Linked DNA regions of Homo sapiens: region 1 is linked to region 2. The links come from fine-mapping of genetic effects on gene expression. Tissue or cell type: monocytes after Pam3CSK4. Region 2 holds a variant in brackets; the other region holds the start of a gene. All regions are shown on one strand. Distances are from middle to middle.

The links. PIP is the estimated chance that this variant, and not a neighbour inherited with it, causes the effect.
Region 1: FNDC3A starts here. The variant in region 2 is fine-mapped to the expression of FNDC3A in monocytes after Pam3CSK4 (Quach 2016, PIP 0.95).

The regions. Positions count from the first base shown.
Region 1 is chr13:48,972,073-48,980,256 of GRCh38, reverse strand. It overlaps FNDC3A (fibronectin type III domain containing 3A), which reads right to left and starts at 4,345. Exons shown (of 26, transcript NM_001079673.2): 1 at 4,080-4,345. RefSeq lists enhancers at 3,311-3,410, 3,571-4,190, 4,081-4,380, 4,191-4,810, 5,081-5,140 and silencers at 3,551-4,030, 4,361-4,630.
Region 2 is chr13:48,850,426-48,858,609 of GRCh38, reverse strand. No RefSeq gene overlaps it. Among named protein-coding and RNA genes, the nearest start is that of FNDC3A, 120 kb to the left of the region's middle. The variant C/G (reference allele first, on the strand shown) is at 4,604.

The DNA.
Region 1 (8,184 bases), 120 kb before region 2:
TTGATACACCTAACCTTATACAAATTCTAAATCAAGCCACTGTGTAGCTATTTTCACTGTAGTAAGGCCTGACTCAAAGGCTTTTCGTCTTTCACTTCCTAATTCTGAGACCTATTCTAGGCTCTTGTTAGAAGTCTGGCCACAAAATAACAATTACAGAAGCACTTATTTCTACATACTTTTTTTTTAGGATAACATAAGGAAAAATATATACATGATAGTCATAAAACGCCCAAACCACCATATAGACAAGATGATGCAAGAAATTTCACAGTATGTGCTATATGGACAATTACTTTGCCAATTATTACCTAGCAGTCAGCAAACTAGGTCCCCTGGCCAAATCCAGTCCACAGATGGCTTGTTTTTGTTTGGCTCTTGAGACAACAATGTAAAAATTTTTACGTTTTTAAAAGATTATAAAAAACTAACAAACAAACAAGAACATTCAACCGAGACTGTAAATGGCCTGCAAAACCTAAAATATTTAATTATCTAGCACTCTACACAAAAAGTTGGCCGACCCCTGACCTAAGCCATACAAACAAACACATATAAGCTATCCATTATACATAAAGCTTAAGCTATTAATATGTCAAAGCTGAGGTATAGTTCTTTCAGTGATAGGTTCCTAATGATACAAACTGTCTTGTCCAGCTCTGCCTATTTTCCTCTTCTGATGCCCTGGTGCTTAAGCTAACATCTCGACCTAACTTTCTTTCTTTCTTCGTCCCAATTTCTGTCCTTGGATGCTCTTGGACTACTTATTCTACTACTACTTCCAACTCTGCCTGTGAATCTCTTTTGGAATGCCTTTCCTTTTGTTATCTAAATCATTTCTAAGTTTCCTCTGACTCCCTCCAAATGCCTTCCAGGATTGTTCTAGCTCTCACTGGCTTCACTTCCCTTTAAATTCCAGTTGGTGTCACACAACTTAATAATACCATATTATAATTTTTGCTAATGATACTATTAGTCTAGTACCCCCAACTAATTTGTAAACTACTTGAAGGAAGGAAGACATCACACTATGTTTGTATCCCCACTTTAATAACATTGCATCACCCTGCAAGCACATGACATCTCCCAGGTGTAGTTCTCAATCTTGGAGGAAAAAATAGCCCAAGGACTGGTAATGGGTGATAAGTGATTGGAAACATTGAAAGATGACACCCACAAAGGAACTTGATGGAAGACCACAGGTTACACAGAAAACTTGAAAGTATATATTAAAGACAAGCAAAACCACAACAGTGGGAAGACAGAAAGGTAAGAATAAAGATATAAAAAGAGACCACTGAATAATTATCTGAAATAAGACCAAAATATTAAGAAAATTATAAAAGCTCACAATACATGTAAAAGTACAAAATTTGCCTTTCAACATTAATGGCCACTAATTTCGTTTTAACAAGTAGTTTTTGACATTCACACATATGGGAGCCATATTTCTTGTTTTGCAATGTGATAAACTGAAGCAGTAAAAGGCTCAATGGAATAAATATGCACCATATTCTAAACCTTCGGAATTACAATATTGTGAGTTTATTTGAAGTCCGCTAGGCAATGCTAAAAACAAAACAAAAAAAACAAAAGCAAACAAAAAAAAACCAGAAACACTAATCACTTAGTTATCTGGCTAATAAAATTGGAAATCATGTGCATATCCCTACACCATTCTCAAAGACACGATCTAGATTCATTTTCATTCAAAAATGCACCAACAATGTTTCAAAAAAAAAACGTTTTTGGTTACTTCATCAAATTGTATTTTAAAAATACTGGCAGATTATAAAATACACAAGCCTTGGATGTCATGAACATCTTAAAAAATGCAAATGTTTTAAAACAGCGCAAATATTACTAAAAATTGATAAAGTATAAATTAAATGCTCTTTGCCTAAAACTACAAAAGACAATGAGAATATGAATCATGCATTCCCTCTTTTTTTCGGGGGGTTAAGGATGTCTCAGCCCTTAGCTATGTCTGGCTGGTCAGGGAAGAGGGAGAAATTTTTAAATTAGTAATAAAATATGCTTACTATTATATTGTAGAAATGTGACTAGTAAAGAGTAATCATTACATGTGTGTTAAAATAAATCAGGTCTCAATTACTCACACAGATAGAGGAAGTGAAGACACAGACGTCACCAAAAGAAGATAATCCTAGAATGTTTTTTTTAATGCTTATTATTAATTTGGGATAAATTAATTACCCTTATAACTATGCTTGACAGTGTTAACCAGGATTTTATTTTTCCGGAGCATTCAATGATTTGGAGGATTCAGACAAAAGGGAAAAAGAGGGAGTTAATTCAGAAGCATACAGGTGGCTAACGGTAGCCAGCCTGGGATAAAAAATTTTCCAGTTAACCTACACATAGAAAACTAACAGATGATCTATGAAATGAAACAAGACAATATAGTAAAATTTAATGTAGTAGTGCTAAAAAATTTAAATATAAGATTTAATATTAAAATTTTAACAAGATGTTTCTCCTGTCATCATCCCTTCTTCCCACTAACTGGTGTGATTAGAAAGCAAGATTAGTAGGCTACAAAGCTAAAAGCAACATTTCAGGTTATATTTCATAAAAGATGTGGTAAAAATCCTTCATCACTGTTTTCTGTTGGGCCACCATCTGTCTCAGTGAGTACTTCATCTCATTACTTAAGAAAAATTAATTCAACCAAGAAAATATCCAAAAGACAGGGGATTCAACTCACTTGAACATTTGTGGGTGACACAAGATGACAAGAGTTAGTAAATACGCAAAAACTAAATATTTATCCAAACATAAGATCAGAACCACAAAACTCAATTCGTTTCTGCCTAACATATGGCTCAAACTCCTGAGTGGCGTATGTTTAGTACTGGAGCTGGTAACAGCATGGTGATAAAATATTATAGTAAGAGTTCAACTGTTATTTCATTCCTACAATACAGAAGCATACACACTTTGGTTTCAAGAACTAAAAAACACAGACCACAGTAAGAAGCAAAATAATTACGTTGTTCGGTTTTAAAAACCCATAGTGAACACATAATGATTATACCGCAAAAAGAAAAAAAAAATCTCATCAGCCTGCGACTCTTATTTAATAGATGGTCAGACACAAAGGTGTCCAAAGGAACTTACGTAAAATCTCACAAAAGAAAATCTCGAATTCACAATCTCTAGCACCCCCAGCAAATCATCGCATTCCACCCTCTAAAATATCCCAAGGCTTGTAACGCTAACAGTTGAATAAAAGAACAATTAACGACCACATCCATTAAAACAGTCCCTCTTCTGCTCGCAATCTGACAGCGAAATTATCTGTTCATTTTCCTTTACCTAACACATGACGTCGTTTCCAAAGCCGTGTCAAAAGTTCGAAGATCCAGGTTGTTAAAACCGGGCGAGGACTGCAGCCTCGAGTCCACCTCCCGACTGAACAGGTGGTTAACTCGCCCGGGGAGAGGAACTGCCAGGTACTGGAAGCAGCCACGCAGGATCAAACAGAGGGCGGGTTTTCGAGGTTTTAACCCCAAGATGAGCGGGGAAAACTCTCTTCAGAAAAGCGTTCAAGTTCGGCGGCTGCCGGGCGGCCAAAGCCGAAGGCGCCGCGGGTGCTGGGCGATCCTCTCAGGAGGATTCCGCCCCAGCCCCCGCCCCCGCCCCCGCCCCCGAGCCCTCCGGAGCTACGCGGCTCGCCGCGGGGAGGAGGCGGGGGACAGAGAGAAGGGCCGCCCGCGCACCAGCGCCACCTCCCTCGGGCTAGATGCCGCCTCCTCTTGGGCTGGATGGCGCCCCCGGCCGCGCCCCCGCAAGCGTGTCCTGGCTAGGCTCGGCCCCGGCAGGTGCCCGACTAGTAGACCGGTCCTGTCCCCGGCCCCACTGCCCCTCTGCACCTCTGCCCACAGCGCGCCCACAGAAGGGGGTGGTCCGCGCCCCTCGACGGGGCCGAGCCCTGGAGAGTGCCCCGGCCCTCAGTCCCAGCCTAACGGTTTCCGCGGCGCCTCCTCCGGGGCGGGACGGGGTTGGGACGGCTCGGTGTCCCCCGCCTTTCGCGGAGGGAGTGCCCGCGCTCTCACCTCCGAGTCACGCCGTTCTGAGGCAGAAGGCGGCTCCTCTGGCGCCTCTTCTTAGGGTTCCTGATCGTTGTCTCTCTACCTCAGCTGCAGAGTCAGCTCTCAGGGCCGCCGCGGCCGCCGGCGCGCTGACTGTTGGGGTTGTTTCCTGGCAGTGACGCCGCCGCCTCAGCCCCGCTCTTCGCTCCCTCTCCGCGTAGCTCCCGCTTTCTGTTTCACCCGAGGGACCACGAACGCCGCCGCCGCCATGCTTACTACGGAGCCGGGAGGAGGAGCCCGAAGTCGGCGCGCCGAGTGCGGCTGCGCGGGCCCCGCCGACGGAGCCCGCGGCCGGGACCCCGAACCCCCGCCTCGAGCCCGCCGCGCCGGGGCTCTCTCACCGGAACGCGAGTCCCCGCGGGGCCACCGGCGCGTGGCGGCTGAGCGGCCGCGTTTGGCTCCCGGAGCGCCCACACCCTCTCGGGCTTCCGGCTTTCTCCCGAGGCCCGGCTGCGCCTGGCTTGTGGTAGCATCCGCTGTGGCCAGGCTCGGAGCTACACTCAGGAAAAGTGGAGTTAATGGAGGTTCCTAGAGACACTCACACAATTCTCAATCCACATTTCAAAAGGCTCCCCTGAGACGCACCCTGTCGGCCCCTTTCCGAAAGCACGCGAACTTAAGGCTGGCAGGTGCTTTAAAAGACACTCCTCCCAAGGACTAGGAAGCCTCTGAAATGGGCTTGGAAGTTTCTAATCCCAAAGACTTCGAACCCAGGATCTGGATAGCAAGCAAAAATATTTAGATATTTACTCAGTTGAAAACGTGGGGGGTGGCTTCGTGGTCTCTTCGCCAGCCAAATCGCGTGGAAAACCACGACCTCAATTTTTACAACAGCACGAAGACTTACAAGTGAGCGTAGCAGCGACTTCCTGGAACCTCAAACAATGTGGGACGCTGCAATAATGCCTGAGGGCTTTTGACTTACAGTTGCCGCCGGAGACCTGGGGAGGGGGTAGTACTTGGGCCGGTGAGTCCAGCCTCAGGAACTGTCCTTTCAAAAATGGTGATGGATGTAACAAGTTGCATGTCTGGGCTTTATTTCAGTGTATTAATTGTGCGATCTTTTAAAATAGCTGTATTTTTAAAACTGTTTTACAGAAATCTCTTTAAAATGTGATTATTCTCTATATTCTTAAAGAATACAATGGCTAATTAAATCCTTTGTTGATAACTGACTCTCAAACCGATATCTTGGCCATACGTTTAAGTCCCAGAGGATTGCTGCGGTGTATAGAATCCCTACTTTGGTGCTCTCTTTTTTTCCCTCTTTGGAATGTTCTCATCACCTCTTCTAAAATCCTTCACTGCTTTTCATCTCCTCATCTGCCTCTATCCACTCTGATCCTTCCTCTTATTCTTTCTGCTTTACTGTTTATTTTTCATTCTTCTCTCCTTTCTCGGCTGGTTTTCTCTGCGGCTCCAGGTGAAGATTGATGGGATGTTTATGTCCACAGCCAGCTAATGAGAGGTTTCTTTTCTTCTGGTTGTAAATAGGGCAGTGGTATCTTGAGATATTTTCATTGCTCTTCACTATCAGAAGTTCTTTCCCTGTGAGAGATGTTTCCTTTTCTTAACTTTTGGATTTGGCCCTCTTCGAGACAGCTGGCAAGTTGATCTTGGAATAATTGAAGTATAACTGTATATTGTTTCAAAGTATGAGGATTTTATCAGAGTGTGGGCGAATGGGGTGGCTTCCCCATCTTACTGCCCAACTATGCTTGGTCTGAGACTAAGATAGTGGTTTCCAAACTTACCGCTAAGCTAATACTTTCCTACTCTGCTTCCTACTCAGGAGCTTTTTGAAAATACAGAATCCTGCAATCTACCCCCTCAAGATTCTGATTCCTTTGTCCAGGGAGAGGCCAAGACATGGCACTTTTAAAAACTATATTTAAAAAAATATGTTTGGGACATGCCTACATGTAAAGGCAGAGTAAAGAAGATCAGCTGTTTTTGAAGGAGATTAACACATAATTTAAGAATGTTATTGAAGACCTAGAGATTGTAGTCAATAATATGCAATGCAGTAAGGTGAAGTAAAGTGAAGACCAAGGAATTTATGGCCTTTGGAGAGAAGAAAACCCACACATAAATGACCCTAGCATGTGCACCAGTATGAGTTCTCTGGGAACAGAGAGAGGGTCAAGAAATTATGTTGGCTTTGAACAAGTTCTCTTCTCAATGCTTCACTTTTTTTTTATCAATAAAATGGGAGCCATTTTCAATCCTCATCTTTCTTGGCCTCTCAACAATACTCAACACTTTGACCACTATTCTTTCTTAAACATTTCTTCTTCCTTTGACACTGCATTTTCTTGGTTTTCCTCCTTAGTTTCCTAGGCACTGCTTCTCTGATTCCTTTGCATATTCCTGCTGGTCTCCCTAACTATTAAATATAACAGTACCTTAAAATTCAGTTTTAGATTCTTTTCTGTTTTCATTGTAATCTCTTGGCCTAAGCAGCATCACCCACGCCAATGGCTTTAGTTATCATCTATATGCCAGTGATCTCCACATATATGCCTCCAGCCCAGACCTTTCCTCTAAATTCCAAATCTGATCCACTAGTCAAAGTTTGACCCTACCTCTAAATTCCAAGCTTCACTGACATGGCCACTTAATATCTCAAAGTTGCAAAGTTTAGTCCAACTGAGTTCATGAACACTTGTTTTCCTTATCCCCCATCTCTCTAGTTATTCAAATCAAATATCTAGTAGTCAGTAACCGCTGATGTCTCCCTCACCTCCATTCTTCCATTCTCCATATTTGTTGCAGCACTAACTCCTGGCAATTTTATTTCTAAAATCTAATTGGTCTACTTCTTTCCAATCACCACCAATCTAATTCGATCTCACTGTATACAATCTGGGATCCTCCATTCAGTCTCCATTTTGCAGCCAAAATTATCCTCTAAGAAAGCAAATGAGACTATGTCACTACTCCAAAAATCTCCTTAAACAGTTTCTCATTGCTTTAGGATAAGTCTAGAATTCTTAAGGCAGCCTAAAAGACCATACGAGGTCTGGCCTTACCTGCCTTTTCCAGCCTCATCTCACACCATTTTCACCTTGTTTCCTGGGCAGACTTCCTGGTCTTCTTTTAGTTTCTCAAAAATGCTATGATCCCAACAACCAAAGGCTCTATGTACATGCCATTCTCTCCTTTAGTTATCCTATCTCTTACTCATCCTTCAGGTCTCAGCTTGAAAGCGACATCCTTGGGAAAAACATTTCTGACCTCCCAGATACATTCAAGATACCTTGTTATGTCAGCTCTCTTACCACCATATACCCTCCCCTCTTATGACTTACCACAGCTTGTAACTACATTTTGGTATGTGTAACTACTAGGTTAATGTCTGTTGCTCCCCACATTAGGATAAAGACCATGTCTATTTGGGCCTGCACAGTGCCTGGCACATAGAAGCTACCCAATAAATATTTCTTGAATGATTATTGTCCTATGAGTTTATTTCTGGGATTCTAGAAGGTTGTTAGATCGGGAAATTAGATCACTGATCATTTTCAAGAGAGCAATCTTCTGTATGACTAGTGGGAAGAAATGCAGAAATGTGCTGGAAGACAATTCTCTGTGGGACTCTAGTATTTCTGCATGTCTTGTGAGCAGAGGCACTAACAGCTTTTGTTTTAGACTATATTTTCAAGGATTTTTTTTTTTTTTTGGTCAAACTGCCTTGGAAAATATACATAGTGTCCCCTGCCCTGCTCCCCCTCCCCGCCAAGAGCAGGGGCACATTTGTTTACCATCCAATATAGTGAAGATAATGTCTTTGGAGGTAAAGGTCAAGCAGGTTTTCTTGCAGCCTATTATAAAAAGATTGGGGATTTCCTAAGCTTAGATAGAGTTTCTCAGCTGTGAGGCAAACCCACTGCAGGTGCATCACTCACCTGAACCACACCATGTAGCTCCAGGTAAGACCTGGGGGCAAGGGAACTGACTGAACATGACACTGGCGCTGCTTGCTGTGCCATGAGTAATACAGCCCTTTGACTGCAAAGCCCCACGTCTTCTGCCAGCTTCCATGAAACTATAGCAGGTTAAGTGATTA
Region 2 (8,184 bases):
GCACAGTATATCCTGAAAGAAACTTGCCACTTCAGAGGATTTGCTGCCACCGATGTCACTTCCTATTAGTAGTGAGTTGACTTTGCATTCTCTGAGGCTCAGATTCCCACCATGAATTCTCCCCATACGCACTTCAAACTAAATTATAGCTCTATTCTCCAGTTATTGAAGACTAGCAAGACTGTGATGGTTCACTGGAGTCTTTTCTGATTTGAGATTTATACACTCCAAGTCTATGTCACCTAAAATGGCAGCCATTGTTATTATGTGGGCCTTTGAGGTTTGGCCTCAAAGAGCTGATTTCACAGTGATCATGCTGGCAGGAAACTTGCTATGGTTTATGGTAGATATAATGCAGTGATTTTGCAATTAGCCAAATTTTGGTGGTGTAATAAGATAGCTTGACTTACTAGTTCTTGAAAAAAATCAAGACTCTAATATAATACATGAATATTGACAATCTGCTTTAGAAATGAGAATATGTATTGTACCCACCTGGAAATGTTGGCATTTTGAACCATACCAAATGATTAGCTTTTTTGTTGTTGTTCTCTCAGTGAAAGATTCGATTCCCTGCTGTAAATTCTAGAGACTACCACAGTGACGTGTTCTGTGGGCTTCCCTTAGAACAAAGGAAACCACTCATTTTCCAACATTAATGGCTATCTGAAGATTCAGACAAGTTGAACACAGCATAGTTCTTGATTGGATAGGAAGAAAGTTATCAACAGGGTTAGAATCAGACCATTGTTTTGAAAGCAGACCTAGTTCTTATCTTACCCACTGGCTTGGACTATGTTTGGGGAAACTGTTATTGATTCGATTTATTTCCATAATGGTTGCGTTCTGCTTCCTCTCAGGAACGCTAATGTATAAGACACATGGAGCTTCCTCCTGTGTGTCTGCCAATTAAGGGCTATCGAGTTTAATGAGTCTATTCAACAGCACCCAACTCTCTAGTCTTTATTCAGTCTCCTGGGAGTTGAGGCTCAGAGAGAGGAGTACAGAAACAAGCCTACAAATTTGTTGAATAACCTGTTGTGTGTGTGTGTGTGTATATATATATATATATACACACACATATATATATATACACATATATATTTATAATAATAATTATTATTTTTTTGAGACGGAGTCTCCAACTGTCACCCAGGCTAGTGTGCAGTGGTGCACACTCGGCTCGCTGCAACCTCTGCCTTCCAGGTTCAAGTGATTCTCCTACCTCAGCCTGCTGAGTAGGTGGGATTACAGGCGCCCACCATCAGGCCCAGCTAATTTTTTGTATTCTTAATAAAGACGGGGTTTCACTGTGTTGGCCAGGCTGGTCTTGAACTCCTGACCTCGTGATCTGCCCACCTTAGCCTCTCAAAGTGCTGGGATTACAGGTGTGAGCCACCACACCCAGCCCCTTTTGTGTGTGTGTGTATATATATATATATATGTGTGTATATATATATATATATATTTTTTTTTGAGACTTCGTCTCGCTCTTGTCCACCAGGCTGGAATGCAATGGTGCAATCACGTGATCTCAGCTCACTGCAACCTCCACCTCCTGGGTCTGAGTGATTCTCCTGCCTCAGCCTCCTGAGTAGCTGGGATTACAGGTGCCTGCCACCACGCCCGGGTAATTTTTGTATTTTTAGTAGACACAGGGTTTCACATTGTTGGCCAGGCTGGTCTTGAACCCCTGACCTCGTGATTCACTGGCCTCGGCCTCCCAAAGTGCTGGGATTACAGGCGTGAGCCACCGCGTCTGGCCCCCTTTTGTATATTTTTAAGGACATATTTGTCCTCTCTAGAACACATGATAGTCCACATGTAATCACGTGAAGTGTCATCATATCGCTGTCATTTAAAAGTACTGGACATTCAAATGACCATTATTCAAAATGACTAGGATGAGCTCAGGACTTTGGCATATACTGCAGAGGTTGTGCCCAGCCAAAGGGTGTCCAGCAAAGAGTGGGAGCAAAACCTTCCTGTTCTGCAACAGCTCAAAGGAGAGTGCCTTTTGTTATAATAATTCCCACAAAGACCCTGGTCAATGGTGGCCTTGGATAAAATGCTTTCCATATATCACCATCCATACTCGACCACCTGAATGAACAATGTCTCTGCATCAGGATGCTCTAAGGATGGGCAATATGGGGAAATAAGAAGATATGGGGCAGAGGTAAAGAGAAAAACAGACATCTCATTATCTGATGTCGAGATTGGCTTTGAATTCCAGATTTGGTGTGACCTAGAGGGCGAGTTTTTACCTCTTTGTGATTTTGTATTCTCATGTTGAAATGGGATAATCCTACCTCATAGAACTGTTGTGAAGAATCATTAAGATAATGAACATAAAGCACTTGGCAAAGTGCCCAGCAAATAGGAAGTGCTTAAACAATGTTAGCTATAATTATTATGTTTGTCACTCTCCTGTCCCAACCCTTGGCCCTAATCCTTAGTGTTTACTTACCTGCTACATTGTAGGAGCTGTTGATGAGTTCCATGGCACTGCAGGAGGAGAGGGTTTAGAGGAAGGAAAACTACAGAGTGGGTAATGAATAAGCCACATTGGGATGGGACTCAAAGCATTAAGGGCGATACAAAGATTTAATTTTACCAAAAAGATTCTTTCTAACCCAAACCAGATTGACTTAGGTTTTTATTTTATTTGTTTTGCCTATCACATCTTGTGTTTTCAAAGACAGATTTTTCTGAAGGTGGTTTAGAGCTTGCTTACAATAATTACTACTTGTGAATTCAAAAACTAGAGGGCAGGTTGTATTTACTTCTCTGTCAACAATTACCAAGATTGTTGTTCACATCAAAGGAGGAGCAAGACTTTTGACTTCTCTCCAGTGTGATCATCTGATTCCTGTATCCATTATGGGCACAGAACTTTAAATACTCAGGAAAGAGGCAGGACCTAGGCCTTCCTCTGTTCATACTTAAATAAAGCATATTATTTTTCCCTCTTTTACAAACTTTTAACTGGAAACCAGCTGACTTTACAAATAGACATTTAGCTGCAATGGTTTTGCATGAATACTCTCTATGCTGTATTTATAATCTATTTAAGCTCTCTAGTGATTGGAGAAAATTCTAGGCTCAGAAAATATGTTTACTTGCTTAAAACAAAATGCCACAATGCCATTTTTCAAAGCCTCTGAGAGCCATTTGCAGCAAATGTGTCTAATTTGGTCATTCTTTGAACTTGCTGAACTGATTTTTTTTTTTTTTTTTTTTTTTGAAACAGAGTTTCACTCTGTCACCCAGGGTGGAGTACAGTGGTGTGATAGCTCACTGCAACCTCTGCCTCCCAGGTTCAGGTGATTCTCCTGCCTCAGCCTCCCGAGCAGCTGGAATTACAGGCACCCACCACCATGCCCGGCCAATTTTTTTATATTTAGTAGAGACAGGGTTTCACCATCTTGGCCAGGCTGGTCTTGAACTCCTGACTTCATGTGATCTGCCCACCTTGGTCTCCCAAAGTGTTGAGATTACAGGTGTGAGCCACCGTGCCCAGCCTTGAAATATTATTCTTATAGGAATCTCTAGTTTTAAACCAACTTGTTGTTTTGGACTACAAGAATGGTAGAAGGACCAGTGGCCTGGGAGTAGGTCCTGGGCTATAGAGCCGGGTCTGCTTCTAACTGTGATCTTGGGCAAGTTATGCAATCTCTTCCAACCTCAGTTAGGAGGTTGAACACTTACATTTTTTTTTTTTTTTTTTTTTCTGAGACGGGGGTCTCTCTCAGTTGCCCAGGCTGGAGTGCAGTGGTGTGATCACAGCTCACGTGCAGTGGCACGATCTCGGCTCACTGCAACCTCTGCCTCCTGGGCTCAAGCAGTTCTCCTGTCTCAGCCTCCCAAGTAGATGGGACTACAGGCACCTGCCACCACGCCCGGCTAATTTTTGTATTTTTAGTAGAGACAGGGTTTCACCATATTGGTCAAGCTGGTCTTGAACTCCTGACTTCAGGTGAAAACCTGCCTCGGCCTCCCAAAGTGTTGGGATTACAGGCATGAGCCACCGTGCCCAGCTCAACACTTATCTTTAAAAGGGCTGCTTCAGAATTTGTGAAGCCTGGTGCAAAATGAGAGCGTGGGACCCACTGTTCAAAATGCAGGAAAGAAGTGCTATTACAGGTACTATAACACATTTTCCTTTCTTCCTTAGTCTCTTGGCTTGTCATAGCGTTTTTAAAAAATCTGCTATTTAATGCCATTCTAAGTGAAGAAAAAATAAAATTTTAAATTAGCATGAGTTTTAGCATTCATCTTTATACTGTGTGATGACAGCCTTAATGCTAATGTAAGAGCATTTAATTCCCACGGAATTACTGACATAAGATTTGTGTTTTGTAGCTCTCATGTATGTATCTCATTCTTAGAACAGTGGAAATGCTGCACAAAACGGACTCAACTGTTTTAATTCATTTTTTGATATGGGCACATTCTACCAACGCTCTCCACCTTCAGTGTATTGATAAATAAGGAAAGGCTGGAAGGAAAAGGAATTATGGGTTGCTCTATCTTTCCTTTCCTCTGATGTCATCATTTTCAGGGTGAATGGTTCACTCATGCAAGGAATTAACAAGAGTCA[C/G]GAAGGAAATGTTATGGTTTCTGGGTCATTCGCCTTTCTTAGAAAGCTTTCTGTCTGCATTTGAAGCATGTTCCGCTTCAAACAGAAAGTGTGGCCTCTTGGGGGCTGTCATTCCCCTCTTTGCTCATACTTAGTCATGGAAGTAATATGCTTGTTTTGACTGGCTTTAAATGTCACGGAATTCCCACACATTGTGGGTCACTAGAATTCTGTGTTCATGGGACACGTTGAGTGCTATATTTCATAAGCTAAAGGGGTGGCAAGGTGTGGACACATGTTGCAGGTATCTCCTCTGCACATCCACGGGCCTCATTGTCCTGTTGGTCTTCACTTATAAAGCACACGTTCAAAAATGAAATCATTAAGAATATCAAGACGGACAGAAACCACAAGTCATAAAGCCTAGGGCAGAGTCTTTCTGAGCTTAGGGCTCTGTGTGACTGTGTAGGTCTCCGAAGCCCATGAAGCCCTGGTCTTTGAGTCTTTAGATCCCATACACTTATCTAATCTTATCACGACATTATTCATTCTTGGACATGCTTTATCTTTATAGAGTGACTTTACAGAATGACTCCAACTTAAGGAGTTGCTGATCTGATCATGGTATTTAAAAAATCAGCTTTATTGAAGTACAATTTACATACAATTCACTCACTGTAAGTGGATAGTTGGATTTTTATTAAGTTTCACTGCATTCCAGTTTTAGACACTTTCACAGAACCTCAGTAACTTACTTCATGCCCACTTTCAGTTACTTCCCACTCGATCCCAGCCCAGGCAACGCTGTAGACCATGACACATTCTGCAGCAACCCCTATGGACAAAATGCATGAGCTATAATATTTCTTGTTCTATTAGGCAACTGGCCATTCAGACACAGGACAAAATTCCAAGAATATCGGCTCCTTGTAGTTAAAATTCTCAAGGCATGGAAACTAGTTGGGAAAGGAGTTGGGCCACCACTGGCTCATAAAAGTGTCTGTGTGGATTTTAAAAGGTTGCCTCCTCCAGAAAAAGGCAGCCCCATAGCTTGGTAAGGAAACTATGGGCTACATTTCAGCCTTCACATTTCCCCACCCTCTCTACCCCCAGCCTGGGGCTCCTTTGCAGATACAACCCATAGAAATGTACCCAGTGATCTTGGGAGAAGTATTAGTAATAAGAGCTGAGGAGGATATCCTAGATCCATCCCACATATGAACCTGGGCAACTTATTAATCTCTCTGTCTCTGTTTCAACATCTTTTTTTTTTTTTTTTTTTTTTTTGAGACAGAGTTTTGATCTTGTTGCCCAGGCTGGAGTGCAATGGTGCAATCTTAGCTCACAGCAACCTCCGCCTCCTGGGTTCAAGCCATTCTCCTGCCTCAGCCTCCAGAGTAGATGGGACTACAGGCATGCGCCACCACACCCGGCTAATTTTGCATTTTTAGTAGAGATGGGGTTTCTCCGTGTTGGTCAGGCTGGTCTCGAACTCCAGACCTCAGGTGATCCACCCACCTCGGGCTCCCAAAGTGCTGGGATTAGAGGCGTGAGCCACTGCATCCGGCCCTCTGTTTCCACATCTATACAATGAGGAGATCTGTAGAATTTACCTTGCAGAGTTGTCACGGGGACTAAGTGTGGAATAGAGAAAACAGCATTTAGTCTCCAGTGCCTAGTGCTCACAAATGTTGGTAATTGTTATTGACTGAAAAGCGCCCCAAGTACTATTGCTTCCAACACTGTAGCTCAACAGCAGCAACATTCCATGGGTGTTTGGCTCCCTCTTTAACTCTTAAATTAGCAAATTTTTTCAACTGAGTCCATCGATAGACTACACCCCTATCTGTATTTCCAATTTTAGAACAAAAATCAACTGGTACATAGAATTTTATTTAAAAATTTCACTGTATGGGCAACTTTCCTGAAAGCAGCTCTTCTGTTAGTCAATCCTCTCTCCCTCCCTTCTTTCCTTTTTCACTTTTATTTTACTAGAAACTTTTGAAAGTGCAGGTAAGTTTCTGGCAGTAGCTAGTTTTTTCACTGTGGCCATGTCATCTGACTTATCTGGGTATCAGTTTCCTCATTTGGTAAGTGGATGGGAGAGATCATAGAGATTCTGAGGATTTTTTCTGGTTCCAAAATGCGGTGGTTACCTCGGTGGTTACCTCACTGGGGAGAAGGTATCAATGGTTACCTCATGGGGAGGAGGAAACACCTTCATACAAAGAAAAGTCACTATTTAGATAAAATTTATTCTCATTACACCTTTCTTTTCCCTTTTTGAGTATCTGTAATTGTTAGTGGACAGAGTCAAACTCTGTAAAATATTTGAAGAGATATATTCTGAGACAAATATGAGTGACCATGGCCCATGACACAGCCCTCAGGAGGTCCTGAGAACATGTGTCCAAAGTGGTTGGGGTGCAGCTTGATTTTTTACATTTTAGGGAGGCATGAGACATCAATCAAATATATTTGAGAAATACATTGGCTTGGTCCAGTAAGGCAGGACAATTTTAAGTGGAGTGGGGCTGGGGGGCTTCCCATATTTTGGTTTACAATTGGTTGAGTTTGTCTAAAGACCTGGGATCAATAGCAAGGAAATGTTCAGGTTAAGATAAAAAGTTGTGGAGATTGAGGTTCTTTTGAAGTCTCATTGTGGCTGCCCTTAGAGACAATAGATGACAAATGTTTCCTATTCAGATCTATAAAAGGTGCTAACTCTCAGTTAATTTCTTCAGGATTGGGAGGGCCTGGAAGAAAAAGATCTAGCTATGTTAATAGAGATTCTTTACAGGTGCAAATTTTCCCCCACAAAGGATGGCTTTGCAGGGACATTTCAATATATGGCAAAGAAACATATTTTGGGGTAAAATATTTTGATTTTCTTCTCTGTCATGTAATATTATGCCAGAGTCAGATTGGAAAGTAAGTCATGATATATAGGGTTAAATAAAACACATCTGATGAGATTTTATGGTTTGTAGGGCATGACTCCCCAGACCCCTTAGATAGGAATTTAGGCAAGATAAAAAAATCAGAGTTTAGTCCTCATAATAAATGGGTAGGTATTTGTAACTCTGACTAAATCCCAACTTTGATGATTTTGATTTATTATTATTATTATTATTGTTATTGAGACAGAGTCTTGCTCTTTTGCCCAAGCTGGAGTGCAGTGGCTTGATCTCGGCTCACTGCAACTTCCACTGCTCGGGTTCAAGTGATTTTCCCGCCTCAGCCTCCCGAGTAGCTGGGATCACAGGCGTCTGCCACCATGCCCTGCTAATTTTTGTATTTTCAGTAGAGACGGGGTTTCACCATGTTGGTTGGTCTTGAACTCCTGACCTCAAGTGATCTGCTGGCCTTGGCCTCCCAAAGTGCTGGGACTACAGGCATGAGCCACTGCCCCCAGCCTTGATGATTTTGTAGAAGGGAACATCAGAATTTGGGTCCCCTCCGCCAGTCTTTGAAAATTGATGGGAAACCACCTTCTGGGTGTTTCTGGGTCTAGGTGTTATTATCACCTTCTGGGTCTAGATGTTATCATTGAATAGGACAGGTTTGCTGTGGAGGAAAGAAAAATGGTGAGAAAGAGAAAG